6 linked regions of the Homo sapiens genome follow. The protein of the gene in region 6 purifies or fractionates together with the protein of the main gene of each other region. This does not show direct contact. Each region holds a gene or a part of one and is shown on either strand. Other genes may lie near its edges. The genes, in order: CCNQ, GARRE1, SLC35F6, SLC43A3, ASXL2 and KRABD4.

Evidence for each region.
Region 1: the proteins of KRABD4 (region 6) and CCNQ purify together in Homo sapiens (affinity purification with mass spectrometry; one large-scale study listed by BioGRID and IntAct). This does not show direct contact.
Region 2: the proteins of KRABD4 (region 6) and GARRE1 purify together in Homo sapiens (affinity purification with mass spectrometry; one large-scale study listed by BioGRID and IntAct). This does not show direct contact.
Region 3: the proteins of KRABD4 (region 6) and SLC35F6 purify together in Homo sapiens (affinity purification with mass spectrometry; one large-scale study listed by BioGRID and IntAct). This does not show direct contact.
Region 4: the proteins of KRABD4 (region 6) and SLC43A3 purify together in Homo sapiens (affinity purification with mass spectrometry; one large-scale study listed by BioGRID and IntAct). This does not show direct contact.
Region 5: the proteins of KRABD4 (region 6) and ASXL2 purify together in Homo sapiens (affinity purification with mass spectrometry, with the first as the bait; one large-scale study listed by BioGRID). This does not show direct contact.

The regions. Positions count from the first base shown.
Region 1 is NC_000023.11:153,592,640-153,596,139, forward strand, and holds part of CCNQ (cyclin-Q), read right to left. Parts: coding exon 3,365-3,500; intron 2,041-3,364; coding exon 1,908-2,040; intron 95-1,907; coding exon 1-94. UniProt on the Homo sapiens protein: Activating cyclin for the cyclin-associated kinase CDK10.
Region 2 is NC_000019.10:34,253,196-34,257,353, reverse strand, and holds the start of GARRE1 (granule associated Rac and RHOG effector protein 1), read right to left. Parts: upstream 2,801-4,158; 5' UTR 2,740-2,800; intron 1-2,739. UniProt on the Homo sapiens protein: Acts as an effector of RAC1.
Region 3 is NC_000002.12:26,777,784-26,781,283, reverse strand, and holds the end of SLC35F6 (solute carrier family 35 member F6 precursor), read right to left. Parts: intron 3,243-3,500; coding exon 2,773-3,242; 3' UTR 53-2,772; downstream 1-52. UniProt on the Homo sapiens protein: Involved in the maintenance of mitochondrial membrane potential in pancreatic ductal adenocarcinoma (PDAC) cells. Promotes pancreatic ductal adenocarcinoma (PDAC) cell growth. May play a role as a nucleotide-sugar transporter.
Region 4 is NC_000011.10:57,420,622-57,424,121, forward strand, and holds part of SLC43A3 (equilibrative nucleobase transporter 1), read right to left. Parts: intron 3,408-3,500; coding exon 3,361-3,407; intron 753-3,360; coding exon 676-752; intron 444-675; coding exon 351-443; intron 1-350. UniProt on the Homo sapiens protein: Sodium-independent purine-selective nucleobase transporter which mediates the equilibrative transport of extracellular purine nucleobases such as adenine, guanine and hypoxanthine.
Region 5 is NC_000002.12:25,735,488-25,738,987, forward strand, and holds part of ASXL2 (putative Polycomb group protein ASXL2), read right to left. Parts: 3' UTR 1-3,500.
Region 6 is NC_000023.11:46,446,077-46,450,096, reverse strand, and holds the start of KRABD4 (KRAB domain-containing protein 4), read right to left. Parts: upstream 2,801-4,020; 5' UTR 2,751-2,800; intron 1,898-2,750; 5' UTR 1,787-1,897; intron 1-1,786.

The sequences.
Region 1 (3,500 bases), about 110 Mb from region 6:
GCAGCAGGGCCCAGGCGGTGACGGCAACAGGGGTCCGCTGCCAGCTGTGGCGGTTCAGCCAGTTCTGGAGGGAAACCAGGTAGTGGAGCAGGTACTGCAAAGACACGTGTGTCAGCCTTTAGGCCCACCAGCTGCTCTCCTCATGCTGACATAATCATATCAGCACCTGCTCCAACCCTCCAGCAGCTTCCATGTCCCTCAGGAAGAAGCCCCAAGGCCTTCTGCTGGCCCCATCTCCTGCCGATCCCACCCTGCCTTCCAGCAAACCCCATCTAGGGCCTTCGCACTTGCTGAGCCCTCTGCCTGAAACCAGCTCACCGTATGCACCTGCCCACTCTCACCCTCCAGACCCAGCTCTAGGGAAACCTACGAGGGCCACCCCCACCACAGTCCCTCTCCACCACAGGGCCCGCTCTGGCCACCATGAAATTCCTCGGGGCCTGGTGCTCCGGAAAGCACCCTCTTCATGGGCAGAACAGAAGGTGCTGCTCCCCATGCATCTGGCCTGCTGCCAAGGGCACATGCTGTCCTCGGCCACAACATCCAAATGACCTCCCAGCCCAGCTGCCAGCTCCTGCTCTCAGAACACTGACATTTTGCCAGAACCTCACACAATAAGACAGATGCTGCGAGCTCTCTGGACAGTCTGGAACACACATGCGTGTGACCCCAGCACACCATGCAGGAGGGATACATAGGTTACTTTCCACCCCAGCCCTGACTGGAAGGAGGGGAAGGGGCTGGCAGGCTCCCAGCCACACCAAGCTATCAGTTCCCCATCTGGGCACAGATCACACACCCCTTGAGGTCTGAGTGCTGCTCTTTCCTAAGCCCTGTCGCCTTGACAACTCCACCCTGCAGCCACCAGGGCATCTCCCACCTTCCCCCAGGATGCTCAGCAAGCATTCTGCCCACTAAGACACTACTGCGCAGAAATCCCAGACCAGGGCTTTCCAGGTACTGAGGTGGGAGTGTGGAAGGCTGGAGGCAAGATTATAAAGGCAACACGAAGGGCCCATGCGGGTGGAACCGTCTCTCACCTTGGCTGTGGTGGTAGGTCCGTGAACGGAGTCGTGATAAAATGGAACAGAAAAATATACACACAGGAATACAAGTGGAAGTGAGGATGCCAGTGGACTGTGTTGGTTTTGGCATCCTGGCTGTGTTACCCCTGGGGGAGACTGGGCTAAGGGTACATGTCACAACTGCATGGGAATCTACAATGATCTCAGGAAGAGTTCCGATGAAAAAGAATGAAACTCCTAGCCCAGAGCCCCAAACCACAACTCCTCCATCTCTGTCTCCGGCCAGCCTTCTGAGCTGCCCGTGCATGGAGCTGCGGTGCCCAGAGCATCGTGTGCCAGTCGCCTAAGCGTTCCACTTTTCCCTTTTACTGCTGTTTGAAATGGTTCTTCTGTTGAGACTCACACATTCCTAGAAGTTAAAGCATGCTGCTTGACTCAAGCGATTTGGCTTTCCCCATGGCTTCCTAAGCACAGCTGAGCTGGAGGCGTGCTCCGAGGCATCACAGCATCCCCTGGGGACGGGGACTCTGGCCGGTCACAAAACCAGCCTGCTTCCCCGAGGCCCAGCGTGCACACCATCTATATGGACCACAGGAGCTGCCACAGCTTCAGCGGGCAGCACGGACCCCGCCCACAGGTGAGCAGGCAGAAAGGCAGAAGCTGAAATGAGAATTGGCTGAGAAAACCCACAGGGGTGGGACGGGAGAGGCCGGGCGGCCAACCCAGCCACAAACACAGAGCCAGGAGACCCAGTTCCCAGCCGCAGCCCTGCTCTCCTTCTGTGCTGTGCTCTCGAGTATGAGATGGGATGCACTTTTGGGATAAAGAACAGAGACCATGGCTTGAGCCTCTCCAAACAGGCACCAGTTCCCCAGTATGTACCTTGTGTGGATGCTGGAAGGAGACCTGGAAGCGCAGAACTCTCAGCATGAGAAGCTCACACTGCACGATGCTGTCCCGGAGTTCCCAGAAGCGGGAGTCCAATTCCAGGGGCTCACCGCTTGGGTTAAAGTACCTGCGCAGAGAAATGGCAATGCTTCAGCAGCCAGGGCAGTCTCCTGAGCACTGGATGGCTCAAATTGCTTAAGTCACACAATGTCCAGATGCAAACTACATCGTCCATCTGCAGATTCATGGAGGGTCATTTTATTTGGGTTTTTATACAAAAATTCTTCATCTCCACATCTAGTGTAGAGAATGAAAACAGTAACCAACAGAGGAAAGAAGCCAGCTCCTAGTTTTAGCCAGATGGGCTGTCCGCTATCATTCAGCAAAATGTCAAGTGCAAAGACTGGCTGTTGGCGATGGCTCCAGAGGAACCGGAAGCTTGAGCATGCCAAGTCGGTTGTGCTTCCTGTTATACTCAGCCCGGCATTAGGGAGTCTTCATCACCTGAGGTGGCAATGCCCGGGGCTCTCACTCTGGGCCCAAGGAACGTATTTTTTTAACTTATTTTTACTTTTTACTTTTTGAGACAGGGTCTTGCTCTGCCTTTCAGGCTGGAGTACAGTGGTGCAGCCACAGCTCACTGCAGCCTTGACCTCCTGGGCTCAAGCGATCCTCCCGCCTCAGCTACCCGAGCAGCTGGAACCACAGGCATGCGCCACCACGCCCGGCTAATTTTTGTATTTTTGGTAGAGACGAGGTTTCACCATGTTGACCAGGCTGGTCTTGAACTCCTGGGCTCAAGCGATCCACCCGCCTCGGCCTCCCAAAGTGCTGGGATCACAGGCGTGAGCCACCACGTCCAGCCATCCAAGGAACATGTTTAAGCCTCTCATGGGAATGATATACTCCAAAAAGTGAACATTTCTCAGTTTTGTATTTCCCAGACCGTCTTTCCCTCGCCTTGGCGAAGACCCTGCATTCTGCCCCAGCAGGAACACACCTGCTTGGGCCGGCTGTGCCATGCCCACGCCACACCCACAGCAGGGCGAGGCTCCTAAGCAACTGGGACCTACCACCTGGCTGGGTCTGCACCCTCCCGCTGCAGGCAAGCTCTTCTGCCTGCAGCCATCCCTGTCTAAGACTTCCACAGAATCTTCTTTGACATGCCTCTCCAAGCTCCCTCTGCTGAAGCCCCGCCTCTGCCCTCCATCCAGCTTTCGAGGCTCCCCATAATCTGGCCCAGCGTTTCTCTCACAGACCCCACTGGCCTCTGACATCAGGCTCCTTCTCACGTTTGCTGCTACTGTTTCTGGCCCTGCCTGGTTCAAGGCCATCCAGGTACTTCCTTCCAAGCTCCATTGCTGGCACCTGGTGGGCAGGGCCCCATAGGAGCCTTCCCTGCCCGTCCCCCCCACCGGGTGGAGATCAGGAGCCCAGCCAAATGCCATTACCTGTTGGACACATTGATGATGTCACGAGTCCGCAGGTGCTGCTCTTCCACTTTGCCGGCCAAGTAAATTGAAGACATGGCAATCAGGTAAGGGTCATAGGCGTCCAGGTTGGTCTCGCAAAAGAACTTATGGTAAA
Region 2 (4,158 bases), on a different chromosome or scaffold from region 6:
AAAAAAAGAGAGTGGACACCCAACCCATGTGATATCCCAGCCTGCTAGCTTTCAGAAACAATTATTTCCTATAGACTTGGAAGACCCACTTGACACATGGATCCTGATGTATTAGGCTATAGGTTTTCAACAGAACAAACATTTACTAAAATTTTCACAGAATCATGTGCAATTTGCTTAAAAAAAAAAAAAAGGATGCTTAAAACATGGTCTTCCAAACATCTGGAGATAATTTTAGATTGAAAAATCTAGGCTTGCCAAGGGAATCTGAGAACTTTTCTATCTTGGTCTCCAATGCCAACCTACGTATTTGTGTGCAAAAATAGAGGAAGATTAGAATCTCAAATGCCACACTGAAAAGTTGCCACAACAAACCTGAACTCTTCATATGGAGTTTGTTATCTTGTCAGCAAGAAAGCAAATGAAACGGCAATAAACTAAACTTTTTGCTTTAAAAAGAAAAAAAAAATCTCAAACATGAAATATTCCCTGTACTTGTATTGGAAAATGATTTCTTTTTAAAACAAAATATTGTGAAGATACTGTGAAAAGAAAATACTGTGATTTTTAAAGACACTTGAAAACATCTAAGCACACACAAAATGTAAATATGAACTTTGTAAGTAGCCCTTACAAACATACACTTAGAACTTTTAGTCTAAAATATGATAAAATGATAAAGCTTACATATTATTCAATAAATCTGGAACTGACTAGCCATTTACAAAATATTTCATATTTTAAACCAAGAATGAATTTTAGGTAGACTAAAGGCAAAAAAATAAAACCATGAAACGATGAGACGCAAACATGAATTTCTTTTTTTTTTTTTTTGAGATGGAGTCTCACTCTGTTGCCCAGGCTGGAGCGCAGTGGCACGACCTCGGCTCACTGCAACCTTCGCCTCCTGGGCTCAAGCGATTCTCCTGCCTCAGCCTCCCAAGTAGCTGGGACTACAGGAGCGCGCCACCATGCTTGGCTAATGTGTTTTTTTGTATTTTTTTAGTTGAATCCGGGTTTCACCACGTTGGCCAGGCTGGTCTAGAACTCCTGACCTCAAGTGATCCGCCCGCCTCGGCCTCCCAAAGTGCTGGGATTACAGGCATGAGCCATCGCGCCAGGCTGGAATTTTTTTTTATGACAAAGAGACAGAAAAATTGTCCAAATATGTCAAAGGAAAACAAATACTATGTATTCTTAAAAATTGAACGTTACGGCCGGACACGGTGGCTCACGCCTATAATCCCAGCACTTTGGAACGCCGAGCCAGGCGGATCACCTGAGGTCAGGAGTTCGAGACCAACCTGGTCAACTGGGCGAAACCCTGTCTCTACTAAAAATACAAAAATTAGCCGGGCGTGGTGGGTGCCTGTAATCTCAGCTACTCGGGAGACTAAAGCAGGAGAATCGCTCGAACCCGGGAGGCTAAGGTTGCAGTTAATCTAGATCCCGCCACTGCACTCCAGCCTGGGTGACAGAGGGAGACTGTCTCAAAAAAAAACAAATAAAGTTACCTTTGACCCCATTTGTAAATTTATTCTAAGATAACAATCAGACCAGGTGTAATATCTCACACTTGTAATCCCAACACTTTGGAAGGCGAAGGCGTGAGGGTCGCTTGAGGCCAGAAGTTTTGAGACCAGCCTGGGCAACAGTCTCTTATTAAAAAAAAAAAAAAAAGACCATATCAAACAAATCCTTCCGGCAGAATTGTTTATCTTGTGACAAATTGGAAACTATCTCAATGCTCATCGGTGGTTAAATCACATACTGTAAAGTCCATAAAAATAACAATACCTATCTGTATTTATTGATTATCACCAAAATGTTAGCAGTGGTTGTCACTGAATGGTAGACTGGCAGATGACTGTCATTTTCTACCTTAAGACTTTTTGTGTCGTCTTGAGTGTTTTGCCAGGAAAGGAGAATTAACTGCTTTTATAATGGGGATGAGGGACCAGAACAAGGTATTTTCAAACTGGAGGCCCCCAAAGCTGAGTCTCTGGAAAATTTCTAAAAAGTCTAAACAAAATTCTTATCATGCCAACCAGGCACGCTTCTTTCCTCGCACCGCGCGGCGCAGAAAGACACACCCCTGACTCTGCGCTCGTCCCTCGGGCTCGGGTCCTCCACGCTCAGCCCCGGCCCTCCCGGTCCCCGCGGACCCTCCCCTCGGGCCCAATGCGCCAGCTGGCTCCGCAGGGCCGGAAAAGCGCGTTCCTCGGCAGCCTGGCGCCGCCGGGAAGGTGCGCGCAGCCCGCCCGGCAGCCCCGGGATGGCGTGAGGGCCGCCTCCCCGGCTAGCCCCAGCGGACCCCTGCCGCCAGCAGGCCGCCCTCCCTCCGCGGGCTTCCGGGAGCGGGTCCTGGCGCCAGCGCGACCTCCCGGGCCCCGGCGAACCGAGGGAGCGTCCCCTTTCCCCGCCTGACGGGCGCCGACCCGCCCCTGCGGTGCCGCGGCCGCCGAGTCTCCGACGCGCCCCCAGGTCCCGGGTTCGCGCCAGGAGGCCCCTCCGGGCTTCCGTCGGCCGGCCAGCGCCCGCAAAGCCCGGCGTCCTCCACAGCGGGCGGGCAAGGGGCGGGAGCCCACGGCCCCGCGCCCTGCGGCCCCGAGCGGAGCGGCGCCCCGCGGGCCCGTCTCGCCGTCTGCCCTGGCTGCGGCCCGCGGCCCCGCTGCCCACCGCCCACCGCCCGACCCCGCCCGCCAGCCCCCGCCTGCGCCCGCCGCGCCCGCTCCTCACCTGCGACGCGCCCCGGCCCCCAGCGCACCGCCTTGGACCGGCTGTGTACACCGGAAGTTACGTCTCCGGTCCGGCCCCGCCCCCGCCTCGGGCGGACGCGGGGAGGTTGCGGATCCCGCGCCTAGAGCGGACTCTCCTCTCGCATTAGAGGGGAGGGGGCGCCCCGGAGCCTCCTCTCCTGGGACCCTGGGCCCCCAAGCGGGACGGCCGGGGCGGAGGTTGAGGACTGGCGGCCAGAGCCGGAGGTCCACCCAGATCCCCCACCATGGCTTGGCCCCCGGGCGGGAGGGGTCGGGCTGCGTCCTCCTGGATTTATTACTGAAATTGACTGAAATCGATTACTGGCGTATGGAGTGTTTCCTAGATGCCAGGCCCCGACGGGCACTGCAGGAACGGGTAGTGCTCTCTCCCTCATAAGTTTATTCCTTAGTGGTAAATACACAATACCATTGTCACATATCCGGGTGATAATATAGTACCAATGGTGACAAGTGGTAGGAGGGGAAAGAGTAAGAGGGAGGGAGAGAGTACCCTGACCTAGTAAAGGAGAGTGATCCGGAATTCCCCCAGGGAAAGAGCAGGAGCTGAGGTCCTAAGGGGTAGAAGGGAGAAAAAAAAAAAAAAAAACGAGAAGGGAGGAGAACACATTACGCAGAAGCAGCAGCAAGGGTCTTCCAGTTCTGTGGGTTTTGTTTGTTTGAGACGGAGTCTTGCTCTATCGCCCAGGCTGGAGTGCAGTGACGTGATCTTGGCTCGCTGCAACCTCCACCTCCCGGGTTCAAGTGATTCTCCTGCCTCAGCCTCCCGGATAGCTGCGATTACAAGCGTGCGCCACCACGCCCGGCTAATTTTTGTGTTATTAGTAGAGACGGGATTTCCCCATGTTGGCCACGCTGGTCTCAAACTCCTGACCTCAGGTGTTCCGCCCACCTCGGCCTCCCAAAGTGCTTGAGCCACGGAGCATGGCCCAGTTTTGTGTTCCAATAATAAATCAGAGTGGTGAGAAGTTAGGTCTTACTTGACAGTGTTGCAAAACTAATGAGTTTTAAGCAAGAGGTGATTTGTCCATACTTGAGAGTGTAAAGGGGTTACTCTAGATGCAGTGTGGAGAAGGAAGGACTACGGAGGGGAGGCAAGAGTGGATATAAATGTGTACACCCATGTTCATATTAGTCAGAAGGTGGAAGCAACCCAATGTCCATCCACGGGTGAATGGGTTCACAAAATGTGGTATAAACATAACAATAGAATATTACTCAGCGTTGAAGGAGGCCGGGCGCCGTGGCTTACGCCTGTAATCCCAGCACTTTGGGAGGCCAAGGCGCGTGGATCACCTGAGGTCAGGAGTTCGAGACCAGCCTGACCAACATGATGAAACCCCGTCTCTACTAAAAATACAAAATCAGCCAGGCGTGGTGG
Region 3 (3,500 bases), on a different chromosome or scaffold from region 6:
CTCCCCAGAAGCAGAAGCTACTATGCTTCCTGTATAGCCTGCAGAACTGTGAGCCAATTAAACCTCTTTTCTTTATAAATTAAATTACCCAGTCTCAGGTATTTCTTTACAGCAATTCGAGAATGGATTAATACAATTGCCAATTTTCCTTTTCTTTTTTTAAAAAATAAAAGCCAAAATAACACTTTTAAGATCCCAGGTTTTAGACAAGGCAGCTGTAGTCTCTCCATCATCCTCACTGTCCATTTGCTTCTTCCTGGGACAGACACTGTGGCCCAGTGAAGCTGAGGGGACCCTGGGATTCAAAGCTGGTGGAATGGACCCTCCCTCCCCCCACAAGCTGTAATAACCTGCTGGAATCCCACACAACCTGAGGGCTTCACTTGTCAACAGCTCCCTTCCCTCAGAGGCTATTTTGAGGCAGGCATTCGGTGTTTTATGACTGAGCTACCCAGGAGAATGGTTTGAGGCCACACTCAACTGTTCCAAGGAGCAGCACTGGACCAAAGGCTGCTTGGTTCCCTGCGGTTCCTGATGCCACCCCTTCTCTTCAGGGTGGTTACCTAGAAGACAACAGTACATGAGGCTTCCAGCCCAGCCCTAGGAGATCCATCCCAAAGACCCCACAGAGACCTGCATGGGAGGTGGGGCCACAGGTCTGGTATCAGGCAAACCTAGGTTGGAACACTGGCTCCATAAAGAGGAAGTCACTTAACCTTCTCTGGGGCATGGTTTCTTCATCTGTTCCCACCTCTGAAGACTATCGTAAGACAGAATGAAAGTTAAGCAACTTAACGCAACGCCCAGGATACCAGAATTATTCTAAATGGCAGAATCCTACTTAGTCTGTCATCTTGGGAGTTCTCTAGGCAGGCAGGTTGCCAGGGGTGGGGCTGAGATCCAGATGTGCTCTAGGTCCCTGTCTGCTGCAGAATCATGTGGCTGCTGGACCTGGGGGTCCCCCAGGTCCTTGCAGGAGCTGAGGGTAGGAGACTCCATTTGCCAAACAACTTAGAACTTTGGGCCTCAGTTTCCTTGTCTTTAAAAGGAACAGGTAAAGAATTCATAAAAACAATTGACAAGGGCTGCCTGGAATTTCCCTGTAATCTCTTCCAGGCAGAGGAGGCCTCAGAGGTGAGAGTAAGAGCAGGAAAACAGGGACAGGTTTCACTCTGTTGCCCAGGTGTGGTGGCTCAGGTCTGTAATCCCAGCACTTTGGGAGGCTGAGATGGGAGGATCGCTTGAGGCCAGGAGTTTGAGATCAGCCTGGGCAACACAGTGAGACCCATCTCTGCCAAAAAAATAAAACAATAAACCAGGCATGGTGGTACATACCTGTTAGTCTTAGCTACTCGGGAGGCTGAGGCAGGAGGACTGATTGATCCCAGGAGTTCAAGGCTGCAGTAAGCTGTGCCTGGGTGACAGAGCAAGACCCTGTCTCTCAAGAAAAAAAAAAAAAAAAAAAAAAGGCTGGGCGTGGTGGCTCATGCCTGTAACCCCAGCACTTTGGGAGGCTGAGGCAGGTGGATCATGAGGTCAGGAGATTGAGACCATCCTGGCCAACATGGCAAAACCCCGTCTCTATTAAAGAATGCAAAAAATTAGCCGGATGTGGTGGCACACGCCTGTAGTCCCAGCTACTCAGGGGACTTGCTTGAACCTGGGAGCGGGAGGTTGCAGTGAGCCGAGATCACACCACTGCACTCCAGCGTGGCAACAGAGCAAGACTCTGTCTCAAAAAGAAGAAACAAACAAACAACAAAAAAAACAGCACAGAAGGGTGGTGCTGTGGGCAGAGGGGTATTTCCAGTGGATGGGCTGTTACTGTTTTCTCAGGTTGGTCAAGATCACAGGCCCATGGAATGCTGGGGCCAGAAGGCACTAAGGCCACAGCATCAACATCTACTTCCCAGAGCATAACACCAAGGCCCAGAGCAACTGGGTAATGTGCTGGGAGCTACAATGAGTTTGAGGCAGAGTCTGGGCTAAAACCCATGTCTCCAGACGGGTTTAGGGAGGATCTTAGAAGTTTTAGAAAACATAATGCTTAGTTATGGCTGGGTGTGGTGTCTCACGCCTGTAATCCCAGCACTTTGGGAGGCCGAGGCAGGCAGATCACCTGAGGTCAGGAGTTTGAGACCAGCCTGGCCAACATGGTGAAACCCCATCTCTATAAAAGTTACCCAGGTGTGTTATGCACCTGTAATCCCAGCTACTCGGGAGGCTGAGGCAGGAGAATCATTTGAACCTGGGAGGCAGAGGTTGTAGTGAGCCGCCGAGATCGTGCCACTGCACTCCAGCCTGGGCGACAGAGCGAGACTCTGTCTCAAAAAAAAAAAAAGAAAATATAATGCTTAGTTCTGGTTTAAATTTGCTCACTGACTTTTCTTCTTTGAAGAATCAAATCTAGCTTATGACTCATAAACTAGATAACTATGATAATCTAGTTTATGATTCAGATACACTACGGTGGTAAATTCCTACAATTCAACTTCATGATTTAGCTCTAGTGCTGTAGGAGGGGTCCAGAGAGCTGAGGTCTGCCACTGCACTCAGGCTTGTGGGGGCTGGGTAACACCACCCTGCAGGTGGTAGTGAGAAAAAGAGGACTTGGGTGTTGTTATCTTCTGTGGCAGCAGCTGCCCTGGGGGTTCTGCAGGGAGGGGACAGGGTGAGGCCTTGGGGATAGGGCATTCGGGGCCCACCAGCCTGTGTGGCCTCAGTCTCAGGGAGAAGGAGCACCCGGGTGGCAGTAGAAGCCTCCAGGGAACCTCAGCTGGCATCATTGATGGGAGTGCGGGTGCCACCCAGCAGTCTCTCCTGCTCGCTCTCCTCTGCCAGGGGCCGGCCCCTGGACAGGCGGCCCAGCAGCGGACGGTGTAGCCCATTGTAGAGGGCAGTGCCTATAAGGAGTATGAGGAAGCCAAGGATCTGCAGTGCATGGAAGGCCTCCCAGCCCAGTGCCAGGCTCAGTGCCCAGATGACAACGGTGCGCAAGCTGTCCAACACCATGCGGGTGGTGGCGCTCAGTTCCTTGGTGACGCTGATGCCTGCGAAGTTGAAGAAGGCAATGCTGCTGATGTTGCCCAGCAGTGCCACGGCAATGAGCGGCTGCTGGCCCACCTGGCAGAAGGCGTCCAATGCATCCTCCAGTGTCCCACGAGGGTTTCCGCTGAAGGAGCCGGCGGGGATGTAGTACATGGGCACCAGCAGCAGGGAGAGGATCACAAAGCCAAAGAGGCCTGGGGAGTAGAGGAAACAGTTACACTCTCCACCTTCCCCCAGACCCCCAGCACAGCCCACCGGCTTAGCCTCCTCTGATCTCGGGTCATTCCCTCCCAGTGGTCCTCATGCCAGCTCCCTCCTTTCACGTCCCTCAGTCTCTCATCAGGAGCTTGTGGCCTATTAGATGGGTTCTAGCTGTCCCTTCTCCACTTTTACTCAGGGTTTTTTTGACTGGATCAAGAGTAAGAAATACATTTTATATTGTGACCCAGTAC
Region 4 (3,500 bases), on a different chromosome or scaffold from region 6:
ACAGCAGCAAACGCCCCACTCTAAAGGTCCCCCAGCCTCTACCCAACACTGGCCCAAGCACATTATGACCACTGCCACAAAAGCTTGGGCAAGTCTGAAGAAGGGGCTTAGCGGTTACAAGCTCAGGCTCTAGAACCGACAAGCCTGGGTTCAAGTTCCAGTATCATGGCTACTAGCTGCAGAACCTTCAACAAGCTTTTTAACCTCAGAGACTCAAATGCTTCATCTGTAAAATGGGGGTAACACAGTACCTACCTCACCGAGTTGATGGAGACAAATAATGCAGGTTCACAAGACAAGTGTCTGGCATATACAAGTGCCCAGTGAATGTAGGCTGTTGCTATATTTACCTTAATAATAAGGAAGACTGCCGAGGAAGAGTCAAATGCTCCATTGTACAGAGTGATGATGGTCGAACGGTGTTGGCCAAATAGGTTCCCAATCTGGGGATGATAGGACTAGCCTGGATCACTTATTTATTCATGAAACAGATACTTCCTGAGCACCCAGCATGTGGCAGACCCTCCTTATACCCAAACTCACCCTCCACCGCTAGAGCTCCCACCTCAGCTTGGGCCAACCCCATCTGAGGCAGCCAATTATAGAAAAGGGTCTCTCCTTCCCTCCACCTTCCCGCCACCCTGCCGAGTGCCTGGGATTAGGGAAGGCTCCCACCTGCAGGTTGGTGATGAGAAACAGGATTCCCCCAATGGTGAGCATTGGCATGGCCAGGAAGAGCAGCACGGCTGAGCCTGGACCATCAAAGTCAGAGGTAGGGTGGTGTCATAGTGCAACCCAAACATGGAGCCCCAAACTCTGCTCCCACCTGCTCCAAATTCCCAACAATCCTGGTATCCAGGCCCCAATTCTAGCCAGCGTTCCAGCGTCCTTCAAGGGTTTTTAGGATACCGGCCAAGGCTTCCCCAGATATCTCTGTGGAAGTCTTCTGAGCCACCTTCTTCCCAACCAAAGTTGGTCCTCAGTCTGTGGCAGGCCAGGAAGTCTACAGACAGAGGCAGAGCTCTAAGTGAAGCCACCTCTCTCTTCCCTCAGTAAACCACAAGCTGCCTCTCCCTTTCATCCTTGACACTCCTGGAAAAGAAGACCCTGGACTCAGGTCCCTGGCTCAACCCTCTAGCCCATTCCCTAATTCATGGTATTGGCCTTGAGCTTCAATCATCTGTTTAATGGGAACAACAGTTCCTGCTCTTCCTGTCTCAGGTGCTATGAGAACTGAGTGAGAAAAGGACCATGGTCTTTTCTTTGTTCACTAAACTCTGAGCACTTCTTTGGTGCCAGGCATTGTGCTTGGCACTGGAAATGCAAGATGAATCAGATAGTCCTTGCCCTTAAATAGACTGACATGCAAACAAATGGTTATAACAGGTCTGGTAAGTGTGAGACCACAGCAAAAAAGCTCAAGAGCTGGGCTAGGGGAACCCTTGACAAATTCTTCCTCCCCAAACCAGACTTCTGCCCACCATTATTCTGGCCACAACCTATGCCTGTCCTATTATTTGCTAAAATGTTTTAAGTTGACTCACTTTTATCCAAAAAGTATCTATTTTTAAAGGACACTTTATATCACTACTGTAGATGAAAACACTGGCATTACTTGTCATGAATAGAAAGTAACTGTCAAAATAAATACAATGAAAGGAAAACAATGTTATTCAATTGTAGCTGGATGCATTTGACCTTAGAATGTTCAAAGCCTAAGACCTGCTCTTCCCATCAGTGTTAAAATCACACTGGCCCCACATGAAGACATTCTTTCATGAAATCAGAAGGACTGAAAGAGAAATAAAAAGGGAATAGCTGTTCTACCAGGTGATTTGATGTTTGTTAGTGTAGTTCACGTAGTATGCGTGTGCCCCTAACATCCTCTTAACTACCGTGCTATACCTTAAGAAGCACTGCCAAGAGCTAATTTTAGAGTATTCACACAGTTTACCATTCAATTTCTGTCTTTATAAAATGTACATCTCTCCTACTACTAAAGGTTGGAGACTCCTTTCACAATAGAGTCCTTATGGGCTCAATGCTTTTTTCAAAACTGAAAAGCCCTATATTATGGAGGAAGAGGAGGATTGTTGCTCAGACGATTTGCAGGCACGAGTCAAACATTACCCAGCCACCACCTCCACATTCAGTTGCTTAAAAATCATTTACAGGCTTTTAGAGTAGATGATGCTGGTTTGATAAGGAGAGTGGTTTGAAATAATTGGTTTGAGGTGCTGGGCCATCTCATGAGATCTGTGTGAACAAAGACACTCAGCCTCTGTGTTTGCCCAGCATGAGTGCAGACAATCTCATGATGCTGTCAGCTTTAGCATAGCTTACACACACAAGAGTAATGTACTTTCTTTCCTAAACCAAAAATTGAGCCACGGGTCTAACACTAGGAAGGAATATTGGGAGGCATCTCGTGGCCACCATAACCAAGGCAATGACAGAAAGAAGAGTGAGGGATCAGGAGGCCTGCACATCAGGCCCACCTCCCACTTGCTTTCTCTGTGGCCATGGACATGTCTTTGCAAGGGGTCCTGCTGTGGCTTCAGTTTCTCCTCTGTGTAATGGGTGGAAGGGTGGTGGAAAATAAACCAGATTGGAGTTCCAGACTTAACAGACTGGTGAAATTTTAAAACAAAGATTTTGAGTACAATAGGGTTGTCAACTTTTACCCTGCTAAGTAAGGATATTTGCAAAATGGTCATTCATATAATCATTTCATTAAAAAGAGAAAGAGAACATTTTAACACATAGGAGAAGGATGTAAAGGTTTTTTGTTGTTGTTTTGTTTTTTAGGGTTTTTTGTTTGTTTTTTGGTAGAGTCTCACTTTGTCACCCAGGCTGGAGTGCAATGGTGTGATCTTGGCTCACTGCAACCTCTGCCTCCTGGGTTCAGGCAATTCTCCTGCCTCAGCCTCCTGAGTGGCTGGGATTACAGGCGCGCACCACCATCCAGCTAATTTTTGTATTTTTTTTAGTAGAGAAGGGATTTCACCATGTTGGCCAGGCTGGTCTTGAACTCCTGACCTCAGATGATCCACCCGCCTCAGCCTCCCAAAGTGCTGGGATTACAGGAGTGAGCCACTGCACCTGGCCAGATGTAAAGTTTTGAATAAATTCTACTCTCTGAAGTAATCCCTCTCCATCATCCTTGCTTTTCACATTTTCTCAATAAACTGTTTTCACAGACCAGCAATAGCTCAAGATCCTTCCAGGATTCTTTCAAGCTGCAGATCTCTGAATAACCATGTGGTCTGTATATCTTGCCTATAGCCCTCTGCTCACACCTGCCCCAGCCACCAGGTGCCTCTGAGCTTGCATCCCTCCCACCCACCTGACAGCACTCACCTGCAGAGGTGAAGGCTATGATGAGTGTGGCGGTGGTGTAGAAAAATCTGAAACACATAACAGGAAAAGCAGAATATTGTCAAGGAGGGAGAAACCTGGGAGAAAAAACATGATTCTGCTCAGCCAGCCCACAAGTGTAG
Region 5 (3,500 bases), on a different chromosome or scaffold from region 6:
TATGGAGAAAAACTGGGATGCAACAATTCCAAATGAAGAGATACAGTTACTTATCATCTATAAGATGAAAATCATGTTTTAAGAAAAATTCCCTTTAGCTTCTTTTAGGTTTGAACAGTGACAGGAAAGCTGCATTATTTACCCAACTGTGTTTGAAAGGGTTAGTTTAACAAAACACTAACTTACTGACCTAAATTAACTACTGACAGAGATTGCTGTTGGCCTGCTTCTAATTTAGATGTTAAGAGATTTCTTGAAATTTCTATAGACAACTTTAGCTATTCCAACAATAGTTCTCAAAAAAGGTGCATTTTATTAATATGGCTCCTCATTTCCACACTTTTTTCATCTAGGGACCTTCTTTCTTCATGTATTTGCCACTACTGTGTCCAGTGTCTCAAACACTTCCATTTCATAACTCATTTAAATTTTCAACCTATCTTGGGAAAAAGGTAGTATTACTCCTTGAGCCTAGAACTAAAAACATGCTGTATAGTCACTACTTTAGGAAAACCTTTCTGCAACTTACATGACTATTTTTGCTTACCTTTGCATAACCAGCACTTTAGTGCTTAGTGCACAGTAGGTGCTCTATAAATACTTGAATTAGTAAATAACATGATTTGTACATAAAAAGTTACCAGACTTCTAAAGACCAGCTGAGGTCAAGTAGTCTCAGAAGCAATGAACACGGGTTTCTGACTCAGTGAAGTAAATAAAGGGTAGCTGGGGATCCAGGTTGAAGCTGCCTTGTCTTCTGGTATGTTGCCTTCTCCCTCAGCTGCAGACCAACTCTACTTGCAGGCACCCATGTCATCACCTGAATATAAATTTATCTTCCCACAAGATAGGAGACCCATCTAAATAATGATAAATATGTACCAGAAATGGGGAGTCAATCTTTGTAAATGGTCATTATGGATTAGTTTATACACATTTAAATATTTTACCTTCATTCTTATTATATATGGAAATTATGAAGATGCTAATGTCCCCTGAGACTTAAGAAGCTTCCTTTAGAAACAGCACATTTTCAGCTAAGATCTAGACTGCTGTTCTCTTGGAAGGCTGAATTATCTCCAACGTCTTGGGACAACCCAGATACTTGACATTCCAGTATCTGAAAAATAAAAACTGTCTTTTAAAAAGCCAATGTAAAGAAAAAAAAAAAAAGCCAATGTATCCTTACATTAACTTCCAAAATATATTTTTTCTTTTCAGTGAAAGTAACCACAGCTGGGCAATTATGGGAACTAGTGAACTACAATAAAAAGTCAGTTTTATGGGTCATCAAGATACACTCTCGAAAATCTGACCTTAACAATTTTTCTTTTAGGTCATCAATGATTCGATATATTATTCATTTGTTAAAAAATGGGCTATATACTTTTCTTTATAAAGACGATGTAGGCACCATTTTGCTCCTATCATATCCTAAAATCAAGTATTTACTTTGCAGCCACAAAATGAGTTCTCGTGGATTAGACAGCAATCTCGGTATGGGAACATAGACAACCTCTCCTACCAACTGGCTCAGACCTCATTTCCATAGCTACCCTTCCTGACCCAGAGGAGTTCAAAATTCAAGTGTCAAATGCTGAAATAGAACCTAATCAAGGCACAGGTGTTTCTCTTCACATTATTTTCCTTGCTCTTTGACCTCTCCAGATTAGACGGGCAGGAAGGACATGACTGGCTATGAAACTCACTTCTGAGAGAACTGGGAAACGGAAAAAAAAAAATTTCTATCATCTTCAAGAAACTATTTCTTCACACTCCCCTAAGGCCTGGAAAGTGGTGGCAGTAAATGTCAACCACTGTGGAGAAAGGAAAACCTATTTTTTCCCCCGAGATATTTCCTTACCATTCTTTGATTTAGGAGCAAACAATGGGCACATTAATAAAGAGGCTGCACCGCATTTCTTCACTTTTCCAGTAATGTTAGGGGGTTAGGAGACAAAACAGATTAAGGGAGAAAACATGGAGACAGACAGATAAGGAAAATTTAATCAGTTTTACTTAAATTCCAAAAGAAATACACTACCCTGATTTATCACCAAGTTCCTCATTTTACTCTCTTCCATACAATCTGTGGGAACCATCCCATAGGAGTATAAGGCAGTAACTGAGGACTCTTACCCACGCCACTCTCAGATGTATGTTAAACCTCAAGATTCACCAAAAAACTCCAAGGTTTTTATTTTCACTTTTAATGATCTTTTACTTAATAATAAAATGAAAAATAAGAATATAGGAATACATACAATCTATATACATATATTTATTGCAAATACTTAAAATTCTTATGTAAAATGATTTTCTATATTTGTGAAAAAATATGACTTTTTAAATGGTGTTGACACCAACTTCTCTGTACATACCCTCAATTCCAATGTTAACAATTCCTTTAAAAAGGCAAAAGACACAAAAGTTTAGCATTTACCAAACCAGTCTGTACAAACCTTACAGCCAGAAGGGAAAAAAATAGCTTGTGGTAAATAAGTCAATTTTCTTTTAAAATAAAAAATAAACCCCAAAACTATTCCCCTTATTGCATTTTTCTGAAATAATCTGAGTGTCTTTAGAGTAACTTCCTTTGAAATAATTTGTGCCTTAACAGTGAGGTCCTACATCAAACATACCATATATGAGAAATTCAAAGTCTTCCACTGTCACTTTTTACAGATATTAAAATATATATTACTTAAAATATATTACTGGAAAGCTATTTTTAAAATTGATCTTCAATAGTTGTATCAAATGTAAAGCATTAAAAAAAATAAAGTAACCAAGAATCTACGAAGCTATTGCTTCAACTTTAGGAAATGTTTTACCTACTGTTCTCTTTCAATAGGTTTGTAGGTATTGAAACATGGTAGGAAAGGCCCCTGCCTATCACCATGTTTCTCAAAGTCTCTTTGGACTATTCTATAAATTGAGCTGAAAACTACCCTTGGCCAAGTTACTTACTTAGCACACAGTTGTAAGGAGATGGGGAGACTTTTCCCTCCTTGCTATGATGTGAAACCTCTAGGTCAAAGAGAAAACACTCTGGCACTGCTCACTGATAGTGAGTTCTAGAAATAAATAGCAGTGTAATGACCAGAGAAGTCTCCCCACTCCTCACCCCCATTATAGCAAATCACTTCACCAGAGAGTTATTTATGGCTCTCTAAGGTGGAGAAAGGCAATAATAAACAACAGAATGTTAACTGTCAGGTCATTAATATGTATGACTTTGCACCTTCACCTGGAAGGCAATGAGGTCTTCCTTTGGCTATTTAAATCTGAGATAAGCTCTAAAACATGTACATCCGTATGCCTTCACAGCCCAATAAGTATGCTCTCTCCACCCCAAGTTTCCCATTTGCCAGCTCTTATTCTTAGAAATGTTACATGAAATACCACAGATAGCTTCAGTATCTTGAGCATAGGGGTTATGGAACAAGTAGGACAAACAACTCCAGGCTATTTGGCTTTACTTTCTGTTTAATAGGATG
Region 6 (4,020 bases):
TGTAGTCATTTCTACCATTAAAATATTAATATGTGGAAGCGGCCGGGTGCAGTGGCTCATGCTTATAATCCCAGCACTTTGGGAGGCTGATGTGGGCAGATCACTGGAGCCCAGGAGTTCGAGACCAGCCTGGGCAACATGGCGAAACCCCATCTCTACAAAAATTAGCCAGGCATGGTAGCACATACCTGTAGTCCCTGCTACTCTGAAGGCTGGGTGGGAGGATCACTTGAGCCCAGGAAGTGGAGGTTGCAGTGAGCCAAGATGGCACCACTGCACTCCAGCCTGGGCGACAGAGGGAATCCCTGTCTAAACAAAAAACAAATAAACAAAAAAATTGGAAGCAACTAAATATCCAGCAAAGAGGACACAGTTAAAAAATATGACACATGCAAAAGCAGGTATACTGAACAGCCTTTCAAAATGCTATGGAATTTGTTTTTAGTTCCTAATGTGTTTAAAAGCAGGTTCCAAGAAAGCAAGCGCAGTGTGATCTCATTTTTGATAATCAATATGCACATATATGATGTCTCAGAGGATTTATTAAAATGCTGATATTGGTTACTTTTGAGTGGTGATTTCAATTTTCTTCTTTTATTTGCATTTTCTCAATTTTTGACAAAGAATATCACTAGTAAAACAAAAATTAAAAATTATTAAAAATCACCACTTATCAAACCGAGCCCTAGAGGTGAAAAGACCCTCTGCAAGTGTGTATAAGTAGGATCTCTTGATGTGGTTTGGAGGAAGGAGCCCAACAGGGGCTCAGAGGGCCACAGTGGAGGAGAGGTGTGGGGCTGGGTGGGTAACAGCCCAGCACTGTCAGTTCTGTGAGGGGCTGAAAACCACCGTGCCTGCTCCCCTGCATCTGCCTCTTTAACTGGCCACCTACCCTGTTCCCACCCCATCATTTTCTCCTTTCTCACAATTTGCATTTTGATTACCAGGCTCCTCCTTCTTTGGTAGTTTTTCAAATAAAGTTCCAGCAAGGAGCTTCTGTGCAGAGTAACCATTGCATACTGCAACAATCATTGTGACAGTATCAGGACAACAGGGTTCAGCTTGGTGTGGCTTAGCAGGTCATGTCCCCTGGCCCACTTTCATTAAGCATTGAAATAAGGCAGCAGAGATGGATGACAGCGTACCTAGAGACTACTTGGAAATTCTATAAACTAAAAATATATTTTCTGCACTTTGGTCAGGATGAAGGGACACTCAGCATTTCCCCTGGAAGCAGGTGCCTGATTGATGGTGTGGGGCTGACTCAAATTCAGAAATAGCCAATGGCAAGAGACGGGAACACAGGGGTGCACAAATAGGTGTGCTAGGAGAGGCCAATCCTCTGTGGCTGGCTGTGATCCTTCCCAGCCTCATAGCGCCTTTACAGGCACTACAGCAGGGCACCTGCCCCATGGGGGGACATCCATGCCTCCATCCACCTGTGACTTTCACCTGTCCCTCCTCCAGCAGGAATCAAACTGCACTGTCACACGGTCCTCGATGGCATCTGGAAGTTGAGCCAGCTTTGCTTTGTCTCAGCTGAAGTGAGGGACAAAGGCCACTATGGGTCCAGCTCTTCTAGGACCTGCTATCCTGTGAGCCTCCTTTCTCTGCCCTGAGGATCTGGGTCTGGGCTCTGGGCTGAGGCTTCTCCTCCAACTCGCCTCAGCTCAGCGTACCTCTCTTGTGTCCAAGGCCGCAGGACCAAGGGATTCAGAGACAAACACGCCCCAGTTGAGGCCATCACTATAGCACCAGATCTCTGCCTGTGACCCAGGGAACTCACCTCCTTCTGAGGCCTCAGCCTAAGTCTTCTGAGACTAAGTGAGGAAGCTGGGGCACAGATAAACTGGAGTCTGAAGTCGGTGAGCAGTGGTCTCAGGTCTGCACTCTGACCCTGGAAACACAATGACCACAGGAGATTCAATTAGCAACACCTATGCTCCCTTCCATGCAGTGAAGTTGAGTAAAACCCAAAGGTTTTACCCAGCAGAAGAGGGACAATGCCTCATTCTAGCTTTAAGAGTTAACATTGATTCACAGCTCAATTATCCTCAGTGAGCGAAACCCTGCCTTCCTGAGTCCGGGCTTTGGAATCAACTGACTGACTGCTGTGCCACTTTTATTCACTGAAGAAATGGGTGCCTTCCTTCCATGAGCCCGTTCTCCGTGCTGGAAATACATCAGGGAACAAAATCTCAAAGTCCCAGCTCCCGCAGAGTTTCTAGTCCAGCGGGGGAGACACACAGGAAACAATAAACATGATAAACGAAGCACAGGAAAAGAAAAAAAAGATTCCTCGGGTTTGCTACCTACGTGACTTTGGACAGGTTGTCAAGCCACACTGAGCCATTTTCTCTCTATAACACGAAAATAATCATCGTAACACCTCACAGGGCTCCTGTGAAGATTAATGTGAAACATTTGCAAGGTTGCCTGGCATTTTTAGGCGCTCAGGAAACAGGCGCGGAGTGACTCAATCAGTCACTCGCTGGCCCTGAACCTCGTCCCCAGCACTCACGCCCACAGGCCTGCGGGTCTCAGGGAACCGGACCCTGGTCCTGGCTCAGAGGGTCCTGAGAGCAAGGGGCCTGTCTCAGGCGGGGAAGTGGCCTGGAGGATGGGCTTTTGAGCTGGGCTGTAGAGCCACCCTGTCACCCACAAAGGCGTTCACCCATGGCCCCATGACCCCACGACCCCGTCAACCCCCGCCCCCATCAAAACCATCACCACCTCCGCGTCCCTCTTACTTCACCGCCAAGAGCCTGAAACCTCAGAGGCCGCTGACAACAGCCAGTGTGAACTAGGGACCGCCCTCCCGGGTCAGCGGAGCACTTCCGCTTCCCACCGCCCCCTGGGAACGCGGGATGGGGTCGGAGTGTGTCGCAGCGCCGCGCACGCGCAGTAGCACGGGGGTGGGTGCGCCACCGCCAATGGCCAAGATGGCGGCTTCCAGGGACCCCGTGTTTCTGATAGTGTTCGGCTTGAGGACAAAAGCGTGTGACCATTTTCCGTGGCGAGTGGTACAAAAGGCCCAGGGCGTCATCCCTTGCCGGCGAGAGGCGAGCGGACTTTCCAGCGGCCTAGCTCCCGCCCGCAGGGAGGCCGAAGTCCCCCTTGTCCCCCTTCTCCCATTTCGTCCTCCTGCATCGCGACCCTCCCAGTCGCTGCGGCATTGGGTGTTTGTGTCCCTCCGTCCTGAAAGCCATTGTTCCCGCTTTTTTACCCTCCTGGGAATAGGAAAAAGAGTCGCGCCTCCGGCGCCAATAGCGCTCGGAGGCGTGGCCATCTAGGGTCCAGGCTGGTCTCAGGGAACCCGACCCTGGGCCTGGCTCTCAGAGAGTCATGGGAGCAAGGGGTCTGGCTCAGCCGGGGAAGTGGCCTGGAGGATGGGCTTTTGAGCTGGGCTGCAGAGCCAGCGATCTCTTGAAATGAGGAAAGAAACCCTCATTCTGATTTTTCTCTACGCAATAGAGGGGCTCCAATTCCTGAGATCCTAGACACCCTGGGAGAATCTGGATTTTACTTTTTTGAAAACGCACTGTAAATAGCAAAGAGGTGTTTTCTGTGAGATTGCCAGCCAGTGGCAACATGGTCCCCTAAAAAGGCCTGTAATGGCCTTGAGGAAAGTTTTCTGTTTCCTGTCTGGGCCTGGGGGAAACAGACGAAGTGTGTTCTCCATCCTTCTGTGCCTGCCTAGTCACCAAGCAGGCTTCCTTGGGTCAGGCATGGCAGGGTCTCCACCAGGTACAAAGCAATCCCTTCTGTGCTGGAGCCAACTGGTGCCAGACACTGTTTATAGATGAAAGTGTTAAAGCTGATCATGGAATCCATCAGATATGTATTTAATTTCCATTTGAACATGGGTCTTTCTCCTTTTTCTTTTTCGCTTTCTCCTCTGCAGGTTAACTTGCATTCCCCAGGTAGTTTGAATGAGTCTCAGCCCAAATTTGCAAACTCAGTACAGCCATCCCCTGGGAAGTTACCCTGTCTAAGCCTCCTGTACAAGTCCTAGGAAAA